Linked DNA regions of Homo sapiens: region 1 is linked to region 2. A link means that fine-mapping ties the variant in region 2 to the expression of a gene that starts in the linked region. Tissue or cell type: macrophages. Region 2 holds a variant in brackets; the other region holds the start of a gene. All regions are shown on one strand. Distances are from middle to middle.

Region 1 (6,757 bases), 20 kb before region 2:
GCAAGGAGAACCATTGGGTGCTTACAAAATGCGAGAATACTTGCATTTAACCTACACAAATCCTCCAGTATATTGAAAATCATCTTTAAATTACTTACAATACTTAATACAATGTAAATGCTATATAAGTAATTGCTATGCTGTATTGCTTTCGGAATCTGTATTATTTTTATTGTTGAACTGTTATTTTTTACTGTTTTCCCCCACAAATATTAACCACCCACAGTTGCTTCAATCCGTAGATGGGGAACCTGTAAACATGGACAGCTGACTGTACTTTGTCCTATGTCTCAGAGACACTGAGTTTAAGGCCCAGGATTCCATGTTGACCATCCAGCTCCAAAGCTGAAGCTTTTAATCACCACACACCACTGCTTTCCCACTTAGCAGATGAAACTGAAGCCCAGAGAGGTTAAGAGGTTGTCCAAGATCACAGGGGTGGTGAGTGACCAAGCCTGGATTTGATCTATCCTCACAGAGACAGATATTTGCAGGTACTGCTGTTCTATATTAGTTACCTGTTTCCCTTGCTAGGCTGCATCCCTAGCTCTCAGACCAGGGATAGAATTCAAACGTTTGGAAAATTAACGCCTTGAAGACTCAAAGCAGTCCATTCACTTCCACGAGTAATTTCACTTGCTTTCTCACAATCCCTAGGTAAGATAACAGTTAACATATAATCAGCACTCCCATGTGACACTTTTCAATGGCCATGCTAAGCACCTGATATAGGTGTTATTATCTCTTGTAAATCTCACCAACACTATTTTGCAAGAACTAATATCCTCATTTAATGGAAGAGGAAACTGAGGCTCAGTGACTTGCCCAAGCGCCTGCCAACTAGTAAGTGGCAGAGCCAGGATTCTAGATCAGGCTCTATGACCACAGAGTCCACATTTTTCTTTTCTTTTTTTTTGAGCTCTGTCACCCAGGCTCGAGTGCTGTGGTACGATCTGGCTCACTGCAACCTCTGCCTCTCGGGTTCAAGTGATTCTCCTGCCTCAGCCTCCCGGGTAGCTGGGATTACAGGCACACACCACCACGCCCGGCTACTTTTTGTATTTTTAGTAGGGACGGGGGTTTCACCATGTTGGCCAAGCTGGTCTCGAACTCCTGACCTCAAGTGATCGGCCCGCCTTGGTCTCCCAAAGTGCTGGGATTACTTACAGGCGTGAGCCACCGCGACCGGACCAGAGTCCACATTTTTGACGTCGAGGCCACACTCAGTTCCACAGATGGGGAAACTGAGGCCCGGGGCAGGGCACTACATTGTGCCAGCGGAATGGTGGCCATTGAGGGAAGCCCAGGCTGCACGCCAATTCTTCCTCCTTGGTCAGGGAAGTCACTGAGGTGCAGGAGGCGGAGGGCGACAAGTGGAAGCCCCTTCCCATTATTAAGGATCGAGAGCGGGCGTAATTTGGGATCTAACCCACGAGGCGGAACCACCAGGGCAATGGCGCAAACGGAGAACCGGAAGTGCGTCACTCAACGGACGGGCGAATAAGCCGCAGGCCACCAATGGGAACGCCGCGTTCGCGTTCGCCCCGCCTCAAAGGAAGAAGAGTCCACCTTGCGACCGTATCCGCTAGCGCGGCCTGGGATGCGCTTGGGCTCCCTGGTGGGTAACGTGGGGAGCTAGGGGTTGGAGGGGAAAGAAGAGGGACTTCAAGGAAGGCGAGGGGAGGACGGAAGGTGGGGTGGGCGAGACAGGCAGTGGGGTCCGGCCCCGGGGTCGGTCCCCGTGGGCTGTGGAACTCGGGGACTGGGGTCTTGGGGTTTCCCCCTTCTTGATGGGGAAACTGAGGCCCAGACAGGGGCCGCAGAAAACAGCGGACTGGGATGTCCTCCCGCAACACACACGCAGACATCTAAAAATCTTACTATTTAGTGAAAAATATTTTTAATCGTAATTACGATTTAACAGGTAAAGATACTTTTCATTGTAACAGGTGAAAAAGCAAAATATAAAATTCGATTCAAACTGTGATTACATCTATGGAAAATACAGCCTTTGCCGACCACCCTCTTTGTCCCGCCGCCCTCCGTGCTCCCCTCTGTTTTGTGTACGGAGTTTCTTACTTTGTACAAGTCCGCAGCCGCTTATGTTACAGCCCCGAGGCCAGATGCGTTTAAAATCGAGGAGTTCTCGGAGTTTGGAAAGGTAAAGTCCCTATGTTCTATGTTAGGTTTCACCCTCAGAGGGGGCTGGAGCAGCGGCTTGTAATCAAATACACGACCCTTTCCACAGCTAAAGTTATGAAGATACGCATATATTACATTGACCTGGTCGCGGTGGCCCACGGCTATAATTCCAGCACTTTGGGAAGCTGAGGGGGGCGGATCACCTGAGGTTCGGAGTTCGAAACCAGCCTGGCTAATATGGTGAAACCCTGTCTCTACTAAAAATACAAAAAATTAGCCGGGCGTGGTGGTGCGTGCCTGTAATCCCAGCTACTCGGGAGGCTGAGACGGAAGGCTGAGGCAGGAGAATCGCTTGAACCCGGGAGGCGGAGGTTGCAGTGAATCAAGATCGTGCCACTTCACTCCAGCTTGGGCAACAAGAGCGAAACTCCGTCTCAAAAAAAAAAATGCATATATTTACACTGTTGGGATAAATAACCATAAATAGCCTCACCTTAAGTCAGGTCAAGTTTTCCAACTTAAACAAGTTTTGGTATTCAGACTTTTTTTTTTTTTTCCCCTGCATCCGATCATCCACTAGTATTCATACCTTTTTAGATTTGAGGGTTGCAGATGAGGGACCTGGATTGTAGTTGTTCTGTTCACTCACTTTTCTCACTCTCGCTGGATAGAGAGTGTCCTTGAAAACAGGAACTGTGCTGTTGTATGGTCACGTCTATCTCTGCCACCAACTCTTGTGTGTCACCTTGTGCCCTCTTAGTCTCAGTTTCCTCATCTGTAAGATGGGGTCAGTGACCCTTTGCTCATAAGGTTGTTCTGGTTTGGGTTAAATGAGGTCGGGCATGTGAAGCACTAGAATTGTGTTAGCACCCGCACGAATGGTATGACTGAGATTTACTTATTCCACAAACATTTCTATTTTAAAATTATTAAATTTAAATAAATTGATTTAATTAATGCATTTAATTAATTTAATAATAAATTTAAACGTATAGATGTATTTCTTAAAATGTGGGTGATAGGAATTTTAAAGATTTATATAATGCTTCAAAAGCCTTCGAAAAGGTTTTTTTAATTGGTTTATCTGTATATATGAACTCTTGAAACTTATGGCTAAAACACTAGGATTTATCTGCAAGGTTGCAGAGAGATAATTCTGCCTTAAATTGGCTAAAACAAAAACAAAACCAGCCAACCTATATTATACATGGGATTAAAACCAATTTTTCTCCCATTTTTTTTCTCCTTTTTTCTTTTGCTGCCCACATTATGCCTTATTTTATGAGCCCCAGTTTTCTGGGCTTAGTTAAAAAAAATTCAGTTCTAAACATTGAATTTAGGGAGTTTTTGTTCTTGAATAAAAAGGCATATACTTAGAAAAAAAATCTGTTTATCCGGGAAAATATATTGAAATCATGCTGCTGAGCCTCTATTTTCTTTGATGTTTTGGTTCTGTATTATTTTATCATAACTTTTTAGCATTTAAAAATTTACTGATGTACATTTAAAGCCAATAAACTGTTTTAATTAATTTTTTTAAAAAAAGTAATTTTTTTTTTCTTTTTGTGACAGAGTCTCGCCCTGTCGCCCAGGCTAGAGTGCAGTGACGCGATCTTGGCTCACTGCAACCTCCACCTCCTGGGTTCAAGCGATTCTCCTGCCTTAGCCTTCTGAGTAGCTGGGATTACAGGCGTGCACCACCACGCCTGGCTGATTTTTGTATAAAATAAAATTATTTAAGTAGGTAATACATGTCTATGCTAATCCCACCATTCTCCCTACAGTCTCTTCTCATAGAGACAAGGGACATAATATGCATAAACAAGCTTATGGTTGTCTTTCTTCCACTCCTACTTTTCCCACTCCTTTTCCACCAAATTATAGCATTCAATCCTATCCTGTTCTCATTCTCATTTACATTTATTTTGGCTGTTATTTAACATATTCACATTATTTTGTTGTTGTTGTTGTTGTTGAGAGTGGATCTTGCTATGTTGCCCAGGCTGGTCTTAAACTCCTGGCCTCAAGCAGTCCTCCCGCCTTGACCTCCCAAAGTATTGAGATTACAGGTGTGAATCACCATGCCCAGCCCATCACATTTAAAAACATTGTATGTAACATACCTATACAATTGTGTGGAAGTGTAAGTTTGAAGAACAAAAATAAAATGAACACTCATGTACCTGCCACCAAGTTAAGAAATAGACATTTTCAGATTGCCAGACCCTCCACTGAATCCTTTCTTCCCTCCTCAAAGATAACCACCGCCCTGAATATTGTGTTACTTGTTGCCTTGTTTTGCTTTGTAGTTTTTACCATGTATGTGTGTATTTCTAATGAATGAATGTATGCTTTTGCTGAGTTTTCGATTTTATGTAATAGGATCCTAAAATATATTTTGTGTGACTTGCTTGTTGCACTTAACATTATCTTTCTGAGAAGTATGCGTGTTGATGTGAGGAGCTCTACTTTGTCTTCATTGCTGATTTGAATTCTATGGGATGATTATATTGTTTTAATGTAGTTCTTCAGTTGGTAGGCATTTATACTGTTGCCAGACTTTTGTTATTACAAGGTGCTTCTGTAAAAACATATCTCCTAGGGCAAATGTGGAAGTTTCTGTAAGGTATATACCTAATAGTAGATTTCGGGGGATATGCAAATTTGCTAGTAATATCAACTGTTATCTGAAATGGTTACAATAATTTATACTCAGCCTGGAGTGGTGGCTCACACCTGTAATCCCAGCACTTTGGGAGGCTGAGGTGGGTGGATCGCTTGAGTCCAGGAGTATGAGACCAGCTGGGGCAACAGGTGAGACCCCATCTCTACAAAAAATACAGAAATTAGCCGGGCATAGTGGTGTGTGCCTGTAGTCATAGCTGCTAGGGGGTTCTGAGGTCAGAGGATCGATTGAGCCCACAAGGTCAAGGCTGCAGTGAGCTATGACTGTGTCACTTCATTCCAGCCTGGGCAACAGAGTGAGACCCTGTCTCAAAAAAAAAAAAAAAAAAAAAAAAGGAAAAGAATTTATACTCTCCCAGCAGCAGATGAAAGTTTCAGCCTCAGCCATTCTTTTAAAATTTTTGCCTGTCTGGTGGTGGCTAAGACATTCCTTCACTGTGGTTTTCATAATCATTTGTCTGATAACATTGAGATTGAGCATCTTTTTTCTGTATTTATTCATCATTTATGCATCCTCTTTTTGTAAAATTTCTGTTGCCCATTTCTCTTTTACAGTTGTGTTTCCCATGCTGATTTGTAGGAATTCCTTATATAGTCTGAATATGAATCTTTTGTATTTTGTAGCTTATGTTTGTTTTAAATGCCCTCCAGTTTGTATCCCCTAACCCCCACCTTTCTGGTATTTTTGGTGAATAGAGGCCCTTAATTTTAACAAAAGTCAAGTTTATCAGTATATTCCTTTATGACCTGTACTTTTTATATCTCTTAAAGAAATCCTTCCCTACCCTTAGGTGATAAATATATTCTCTATATTGCCTAAAAGTCTTACAGTATTTTTCCTTATTATGACCTTATCCCTTCAGAATTGATGTTTGTATATAGTATGAGGTAAGAATCAAATTTTATTCATTTTTTTACATATGGATAACAAGTTTTCCTGGCACCTTTTATTGGAAAGTTTGCTTTCATCCGCCATCAAGTATCCATATATGTATACCTTTCCGTTTCTGAGTTCTCTGTTCTGTTCCATTGATTGGTCTTATTTGTCTATCTCTGTACCATTACCACACTGTACTCGTTACTCTAGCTTTATAAGAAGTGCTTTTTTTGTTTTGGTTTGTTTTTAGACAGGATCTTACTCTGTCATCCTGGCTGGAATGCAGTGGTGCAATCATGACTCACTGTAGCCTCGACATCCCGAGCTGAAGCAGTCCTCCCACCTCAGTATCATGAGTACCTGGGACTACAGGTGCATACCATCATGCCCAGCGATTTTTTTTTTAATTTTTGTTTTTAGTAGAGACAAGGTTTCACCACATTGCCCAGGCTGGTGTTGAACTCTTGGGCTCAAGCAATCTGCCCACGTCAGCCTCCCAAAGTGCTGGGATTACAGGCATGAGCCATCGCGCCCAGCAAATATGAGAAGTCTTTATAGCTGGTAGGACAAGTCCTTCTGCCTTTATTTTCTCCCAGGAATGTCTTTGCTGTTTTGCCTTTGTGTTTTCTATGTAAATTTTTAGAATCATCTTGTCAAATCACACACACACATACACAAAGCCTCTTGGGATGCTGACTGTAATAGCATTGATTCAATTGCATTGGGTCAATTTGGTTTTTAAAGTGATTGCTGCCAACATTTCATTTTTCAGTATGATGTTTGCTGCAGGTTTTTTGTAGACGTCACTTAGTAGATAAAAGATGTTTTCTTCGATTCCAAATTTGTTTTTGGTGTAGGTACATGTTGAATTTTATCAATTGTATATTCTGCATCATTAAGATGATCATATGCTTTTTTAAAAAAACTTAGGTTTGGCAGCACACGTGAAGGTTTATTAGATAGGTAAACTCACGTCATAGGGGTTTGTTGTACAGCTTTTTTAATCAGCCAAGAATTAAGTCCAGTACCCGATAGTTATATTTTCTGCTCTTC
Region 2 (8,013 bases):
GATAAATAGGATAAATAGACTTAGAACACAAGTGAGGAGTCTGAACTCTACAGAGTTTTATATATATATATATATTTATATATATATATATATATATATATATATATTTTAAATAATTAAAATTAAGGCTGGGCGCGGTAGCTCACGCCTGTAATCCCAGCACTTTGGGAGGCTGAGGTGGGCAGATCACCTGAGGTCGGGAGTTCGAGACTAGCCTGACCAACATGGAGAAACCCCGTCTCTACTAAAAATACAAAATTAGCTGGGCACGGTGGTGCATGCCTGTAATCCCAGCTGCTCGGGAGGCCGAGGCAGGAGAATTGCTTGAATCCGGGAGGCAGAGGTTGCAGTGAGCTGGTATCGTGCATTGCACCCCAGCCTGGGCAACAAGAGCAAAACTCCATCTCAAAAAAAAAAAAAAAACAGTTAAAATTAAATAAATTTCATTTATTTTATTATTTTATTTTATTTTTGAGAGAGAGTCTCAAAAAAGCCTCCCAGGCTGGAGTGCAGTGGTGCCATCTCAGCTCGCTACAACCTCCGCCTCCTGGGTTTAAGCAGTTCTCCTGCCTCCGCCTCCCGAGTAGCTGGGATTACAGGCACGTGCCACCACGCCCGACGAATTTTTGTTATTTTTAGTAGAGGTGGGGTTTCACCGTGTTGGCCAGGCTGGTCTTGAACTCCTGGCCTCAAGTGATCTCCCTGGCTTGGCTTCCCAAAGTGCTGGGATTACAGGCATGAGCCACCGCGCCTGGCCCTCTACACAGAGTTTAAAAAAAAAAAAAAATCCAACAGCTATTCCTGATTAAAAAACAAAAACAAAAACAATACCCTCAGCAAAGTGAGAAAAGAAGGGAACTTCCTTAACCTGATAAAGGGGATCTCTGTAAAACCTACAGCTAACATCACTCTTAATGGTGAAAGACTGAATACTTTTCCCTAATCTCAGGAGAAAGACAAGAATGTCTGTTCTCACCACTTTTGTTCTAGCTAGTGTACTGAGGCGAGAAAAAGAAACAAAAGGTAGCTGGATTAGAAAGGACGACACAGTAAAACTGTCAGTTCACAGACAACATGATCATCTGTGTAGAAAATCTGATGGAATCTACAAAAAATCTTCTGGAACTAATAAGTGAGTTTAGTAAAGTTGTAGGATACAAAATCAATATCCAAATACCAATTGTTTCTCTATATGCTGGCAATGGATAATCAGAAATGGTAATGTAAAAATAGCACCATTTATAATAACATTAAAAATAAGAAATGCTTAGGAATAGATCTGGCAAAAATGTGTTAGACCCGTACACTGAAAACTACAAAACATTGTTGAGAGAAGTCAAAGGAGATTTAAATAAGTGGAAAGACATAGCATGTTCATGGGCTGGGAAATTCAGTATTGTTAAGGTATCAATTCTCCCCAAATTGATCTATAGATTCAAAGAAATCCCAGTTAGATCCCAGCAAGGCTTTTTATAAAAATTAACAAGCTGATTCTGAAATTCACATGGAAATGTAAAGGACCTAGAAGAGCCAAAACTATTTTGAAAAAGACAAACTTGAGGAACCCTGCCTGATTTCAAGACTTACTGTATGGCTGTCCTATCAAGACAGTGTGGTAGTCATGTCATGATGGACAAACAGATGAAGGGAAAAAAATAAGAGAGCTAGATAACAGACCCACACATAGGTGGACAGCTGATTTTTGACAGAAGTGCAAAGGTAATTTAGTGGAAATAGTCTTTTCCAAAATGAGTGCTGGAATAATTGGATATCCATAATCAAAAAATGAACTGCAAGCCATACTTTGCACCAAATACAAAAATTATCTCAAAATGAGTCATAGACCTAAATGTAAAACCTGAAACTATAAAACTTCCAGAAGAAAACATAGGAGAAAACCTCTGTGACCTATGATTAGTCCAAGATTTCTTGGCTCCAAAAGCATGCTCCATAAGAGAATGAATCGATAAATTGAACTTCACAATTAAAAATTTACATTAAAAAATACTCTTTAGAGACTGAAAAGACAAGCAAAATACTAAGAGAAAATATTTGCAAATAATGTATTTAATGAATGACTTGTATTCAGAATATATAGAGAATTCTCAAAGCTCAAAAATAAGAAAACATTCAACCCGGCTGGGCGTGGTGGCTCACACCTGTAATCCCAGCACTCTGGGAGGCTGAAGCCGGTGGATTGCTTGAGCTCAGGAGTTTGAGGCCAGCCTGGGCAACATGACAAAACTCCGTCTCTACAAAAAAATACAAAAATTAGTCAGGCATGGTGGCATGCACCTGTAGTTTCAGCTACTTGGGAGGCTGATGTGGGAGGGTTGCTTGAGCCTGGGAGGCAGAGGTTGGAGTGAGCTGAGATTGTGCCACTGCACTTCAGCTTGGGTGACAGAGGGAGATCCTGTCTCAAAAAAAGAAAAGGAAAAGGAAAAACATACAACCCAGTAAGAAGTGTGCAAAATATTTGAACACTGCAAATCGGTTGTACAGATGGCAGATGAGCACATGAAAAGATGCTCAACATCATTAGACATTTAAAAAATGCAGGCCAGGCATGGTGGCTCACACCTGTAATCCCAGCAGTTTGGGAGGCCGAGGTGGGTGGATCACGAGGTCAGGAGATTGAGATCATCCTGACCAACAGGGTGAAACCCTGTGTCTACTAAAAATACAAAAATTAGCCAGGCTTGGTGGCGGGTGCCTGTAGTCCCAGCTACTTGGGAGGCTGAGGCAGGAGAATTGCTTGAACCCGGGAGGCGGAGGTTGCAGTGAGCTGAGATCACGCCACTGCACTCCAGCCTGGGGAGAGAGCAACACTCTGTCTCAAAAAAAAAAAAAAAAAAAAAAAGCAAACTAAAACCGCAGTGAGCTACCACTGCATGTGTATTAAAATGGCTAAAATGAAGAAGACTCTGCAAGGCAAGTATTGGTGAGAACATGGAGGAACTGGAACTCTAATATACTACTGTTGGGAATGTAAAATGGGACAGCCATTTAGGAAAACAGTGTGGCAATTTCCTATGATTCAGCCATTCCTCTCTTAGGCATTTATTCAAGAGATATGAAGCTATATGCCCGCACAAAGGCTTGTGCAGAGATAGAGTATCTTTATTTGTAATGGCCCCAAATGTGAACACCTAGTTGTCCATTTGCAGTTGAACAGATGAACAGACTGTGATAAATCCATACTACTTAGCAATAAAAGTAAGTGAGCTCTTCCTACATGCTAGAATATGAATGAATCAGAATGATTTTGCTGAGTGGAAGAAGTGAGGTGAAAGAGTATAAAGCAATTTTGTTTTGTTTTGTTTTTTGTTTTTTTTTTTTTGAGACAGAGTCTTGCTCTGTCGCCCAGGCTGGATTGCAATGGCGCAATCTCCGCTCACTGCAACCTCCACCTCCCAGGTTCAAGCGATTCTCCTCCCTCAGCCTCCTGAGTAGCTGGGACTACAGGTGTGTGCCACCACGCCCGGCTAATTTTTTTGTATTTCTGGTAGAGATGGGGTTTCACTGTGTTAGCCAGGATGATATTGATCCCCTCACCTCGTGATCTGCCCACCTCGGCCTCCCAAAGTGCTGGGATTACAGGTGTGAGCCACTGTGCCCGGCCATATGAAGGCATTTATGTGAAATTCTAGACAATGCGTACCTGACTGTAATGACAGGATGGTTCAGTGGTTGCATGGGGATGGCATAGAGGAGGGATAGGATGGGTAGGTGAGAGGGATTACAAAGAGGCACAAGGAAACTTGGTGAGTGTATTAGTCCGTTCTCGCGCTGCTAATAAAGACATACCCAAAACTGGGTAATTTATAAAGGGAAGAAGTTTAATTGACTCACCGTTCAGCATGGCTGGGGAGGCCTCAGGAAA[C/A]TTACAGTCATGGTGGAAGGGGAAGCAAACACATCCTTCTTCACATGGTGGCAGGCAGGAAGGAGAAGTGCTGAGCAAAAGGGGAAAAGACCCTTATAAAACTGTCAGATCTCTTGAGAACTCACTCACTGTCACAAGAATAGCATGAGGGTAACTGCCCCCATGATTCAATTCCCTCCCACCAGGCCCCTCCCATGACATGTTTGGATTATGGGAACTACAATTCAAGATGAGATTTGGGTGGACACAGCCAAACCATATTGGGGGTGATGGAAATATGTCTTTGCAATCCAATATGTATTTTACACTTAGTTTAGACTGGCCCCATTTTAAGTGCTCAGTAGCCACATGTGCTATTTGTAGAATGTTCCTCAGCTTAGGTTTGTCTGGAGCTTCCTCCTAATTAGATCTAGGAGTTTTAACTTTGCAGATATAATATGGAAGCGGTGTTGTGTTCTCTCTGCATCCTACCAGGTCGGCTACGGTGTTGATGGGGTCAGCCAGGTTTCTCCAGTGTACAATTACTCTTTTTCTATGTGATTAATAAGTATATTGCAGGGAGGTACTTAGAGACAAGGTAAATATCTCATTCTTGGCCCGGTGCAGTAGCTGATGCCTGTAATCCCAGCAGTTTGGGAGGCTGCAGCAGGTGGATCACTCAAGCTCAGGAGTTTGAGACAAACCTGGGCAACATGGCGAAACACTGTATCTACATAAAATAAAAAAATTAGTCGGGCCTGGTGGCATGAGCCTGTAATCACAGGTACTCAGAGGCTGAGGTGGGAGGATCCCTTGAACCCGGGAGGCAGAGGTGGCAGTGAGCCAAGATCATGCCAGTGCACTCCAGCTGGGTGACAGAGCAAGACCCTGTTCCAAAAAATAATCCCACTCTTCATCCCATTTTTACCTATTAGTTTTAAAATACTTCCCTGGATTCATTCTTATTTTATGGTTGCCAGACTGCTGTGAGGTACAGTTCTATACTCTCCAGCACTAACATTTTAGAACTAATTACACTGTATTATCATGTTTAATGTTAATTTTTATGAGGTTTTAAATTATCTATTGTTTTAAGGACAAGTTAGGTAAAAATGTCTGAAGTTTTAGATTTAAAAATTTAGGTTTAGAAATACTTCAGTGAGCAGAGTAAATAATTTGATGTTTGGGCAAAAACCAGGTCGCTGAAATACATGTGTCAAAACTAGATGAGTGAGTCAAGTATCATGGTCACGTTGGGGTTTGATAAAGATTTTCTGTTTTTGTCAACTCTCTTATCTGCCTTCATCCCGGGTTTGTTTCCAGCGTGCTGATTGACATGCCTGTATCTGCTTCGTCGTCTCACGCTGGACTCCTGTACATCATCAGGCTACGTGCGTTGATGGTGAATCAGCGATGTTGACATTTTGGTTTAGTATTCCATCCTGTCTGTAGTCCTATTTGTAAGCACCTTCTCTTTCCAAGGAAGACTCAGTCATAATTAGAAGCTGGCTCCAAGTACATTTTCCTTCTGTTTTTAGTGATTTCATTTATAGATCTCCCCTTTGGCAATGATGAACAGTTAATCAGCATACCACTGTCAGAGCCGGTCTGCCTTTCAGTTAATCAAGGGAGATAAAGTCTGGGATCATAACTGAAAAGTGGCAAAAAATGAGTATGAAAAGTAACATCTAACGTGTGACTCGATGAATTTCTCAACATACAGAATTGACAGCCGGCAGTTATTAAGTGCTTAGACAGGAATCTTTGGGTTCAAGAAGCTCTGTAACCACAAGGAAATTGATGTTGCTTTTGTGTCTCTGGCTCTTGCTGGCCTAGATGTGTCCAAGTCCTGCCCGTTCTTCATGTCTGCAGCCTGGGAGTCCAGGCTGGACTGCTCCACCGCAGCCCTTTCAGGCCAGCATGGAGTTGCTGAGCCAGGATTTCTGTGCGCTTCACGCTCCCCTAAGCACACACATCATGTGTTTGGGAATGCATTTTGAACTGGATCCCAGACATGAGAGAGGTTATGTGCTGATGCGTGGAAGTACTGGGAATGGATTCAGTGGGATTACCACAGACCCCGCTGGCTGGAACAGGGAAGCCATTTTTCAAAGGCATGAATTCAAGTCCTGTTTCTTCCAGGGTCTGGGGAAAGTTCTTTTACTTTTCTGAGTCTCAGCTTTCTGTGTTATAAGGGACATCACATTCATTTCATGGAAGAGTCTTGAGGATTAAGCAAGGGAATGTATGTTCAGCGCCTGGCACAGAGTGCTTGTGGGCACACGTTCACTTCATGCTCACCACTGCCTCTTCCTTCCTTTTCTGCCCCTTAACTTGCCATCTAATCCCAATTGCTGGGGGTGAGTGGTGGGGGGTGACTATCAGAAGACCCATGGTGCTGGTATGATAGTGTGATAGGAATTATTTTATAGACCACAGGGCTGAATTCTCTTGGGGTTTTCCTAGAAAATTCACAAAGCATGGTCACCACTTGTACCACACATCTTCCTCGGTTCGTGGACGGATACGTCTTGAGTGTCAGCTGAATGTTGGGCTGCTGTGGTGAATAGGATGAGCAGATCCCAGCCTTCAGGGAGCTGGCATTCTGCTTAGAAAGAGAAAGACCGTAACTCGGAGGCAGACAGTGTGGTAGTTTGGGGTGCTAAGTGCTGGAAGGAAGCATTGAGTCCCTCGGTAGAGCGGGCCTGGGGTGTGGCTTTGGCCAGGGCCTCTGTTCAAACCTTTCTGTGGAGCTGCCATATGTGGCGATGCTCGGGTGATGAGGGGCAGCCCTGCAGAGATATGCGGGAGACGCTTTCCAAAGGGAAGGCAGCATGAGTGAAGGGGCTGAGATGGGGAGGAGCTTGGTGTGGGGGAGTGGGGGACAGAAAGGCAGGTGGCAACATAGGTCAGGGGATGGAGCCCCAGACATCTTCCAGGCTGAGTGCTGGGACCTGGCTCCACTCAGCTGCATGTGGAGGACAGACAGATGGAGAAGGCTAGAGGGGACACCGGGAGAATGTTGGAGGCTGTTGTCTGCTTCAGACTGTAGTGAGTGGGGAAAGGGAAGGGCGTGCGCCTGTCAGAGCGACTGCAGTCAGCCGCCTTCATACCAGCCACTTCTTAGCCCCTGCTTAGCCCAGAATGGGCACCAAATTGAGTCCTCCACGGATAAAGTGTGAACATAAACGGAGACCAGGCAGCAGAACAGGCAGCAGCTGCTTATTTAGAGCTTGCTCCAGCAAGAGAGGCAGCCTCCACTTGGGTTTAGCAGAGACTCCAGGAAGGCAGAGGAGTGGGGAGGCTTCAGGTGTGCCTGAGTGGAGGCTGCTGGCCAGGGCAAGGTGGAGACAGCTAACCAGAAGTGGGGCGTCCTATGTGATTGGTTAGAAGTACATATGTGGCTTTCTCTGGTTTGTTGTCTCTTAGAAACAGGGATAAAAATTAGGGAAGCTGGCAAGCATGGTGGTACATGCCTGTAGTCCCAGCTACTTGGGAGGCTGAGGCGGGAGGAACACTTGAGGCTAGGAGTTTGAGACCAGCCTGGGCAACATTGCGAGACCTCAGGGTCTGCAGAAGAAACAAAGTTAGCTGAGCGTAGTGGCTCGTGCTTGTAGTCCCAGCTACTGGGGAGACTGAGGTGGGGGGATCACTTGAGCCCAGGAGTTCAAGGCTATAGTGAGCTATGATTGCACCACTGCTCTCCAGCCTAGATGACAGAGCGAGACCCCATCTCTAAAATATAAAATAAAATCAATTAGGGTAGTATCAGTTACTGATCCTGCCTTGGTCCTTTTGGGCCATGATTGTGGGTTAGTTTTGGCTTCTGGACTGGTTGCTAGGGGACTGGCCTGGCTTCCTGCAGGTCTGGCTTAGAGGTGGTGGGCTGGCTTTCTGGGCAGGTTGATGTAGATTTTGGGTTGGAGTTCTGCTTTTATACGTGGTCTGGCCATTGGCTGCAGCCCATTGGCTGTTTGTATGTTCAATCTCTCAGAAGAATGAGTGTAACACGGTCCATTCCTTTGAGCTGCTCACAGTCCAGCCTGTGTGAGAAATAGTAACTGCTTAGCTGGTGGGTCAGGGAACAGAGTGACCTCATTAATCACTGTGTCTCATGACAGCGGGTTTCCTGCCCACATCGGAATTGGGAG

Direction of the effects. Positions count from the first base shown, and alleles are read on the strand shown. Sizes are in standard deviations (SD) of each study's normalised expression.
With allele C in place of A in region 2, the expression in macrophages of the gene that starts at base 2,119 in region 1 is lower (large effect, 1.0 SD a copy in Nedelec 2016).

Evidence for each region. PIP is the estimated chance that this variant, and not a neighbour inherited with it, causes the effect.
Region 1: NSMCE1-DT starts here. The variant in region 2 is fine-mapped to the expression of NSMCE1-DT in macrophages (Nedelec 2016, PIP 0.95).

Annotation. Positions count from the first base shown.
Region 1 is chr16:27,263,567-27,270,323 of GRCh38, reverse strand. It overlaps NSMCE1-DT (NSMCE1 divergent transcript), which reads right to left and starts at 2,119. Exons shown (of 5, transcript NR_037184.1): 1 at 2,080-2,119. NSMCE1 (NSE1 component of SMC5/6 complex) reads left to right here and starts at 1,552. Exons shown (of 8, transcript NM_145080.4): 1 at 1,552-1,618. RefSeq lists a silencer at 1,579-1,658.
Region 2 is chr16:27,243,254-27,251,266 of GRCh38, reverse strand. The region is part of intron 2 of NSMCE1 (NSE1 component of SMC5/6 complex); the gene reads left to right. Among named protein-coding and RNA genes, the nearest start is that of NSMCE1-DT, 21 kb to the left of the region's middle. The variant C/A (reference allele first, on the strand shown) is at 3,884.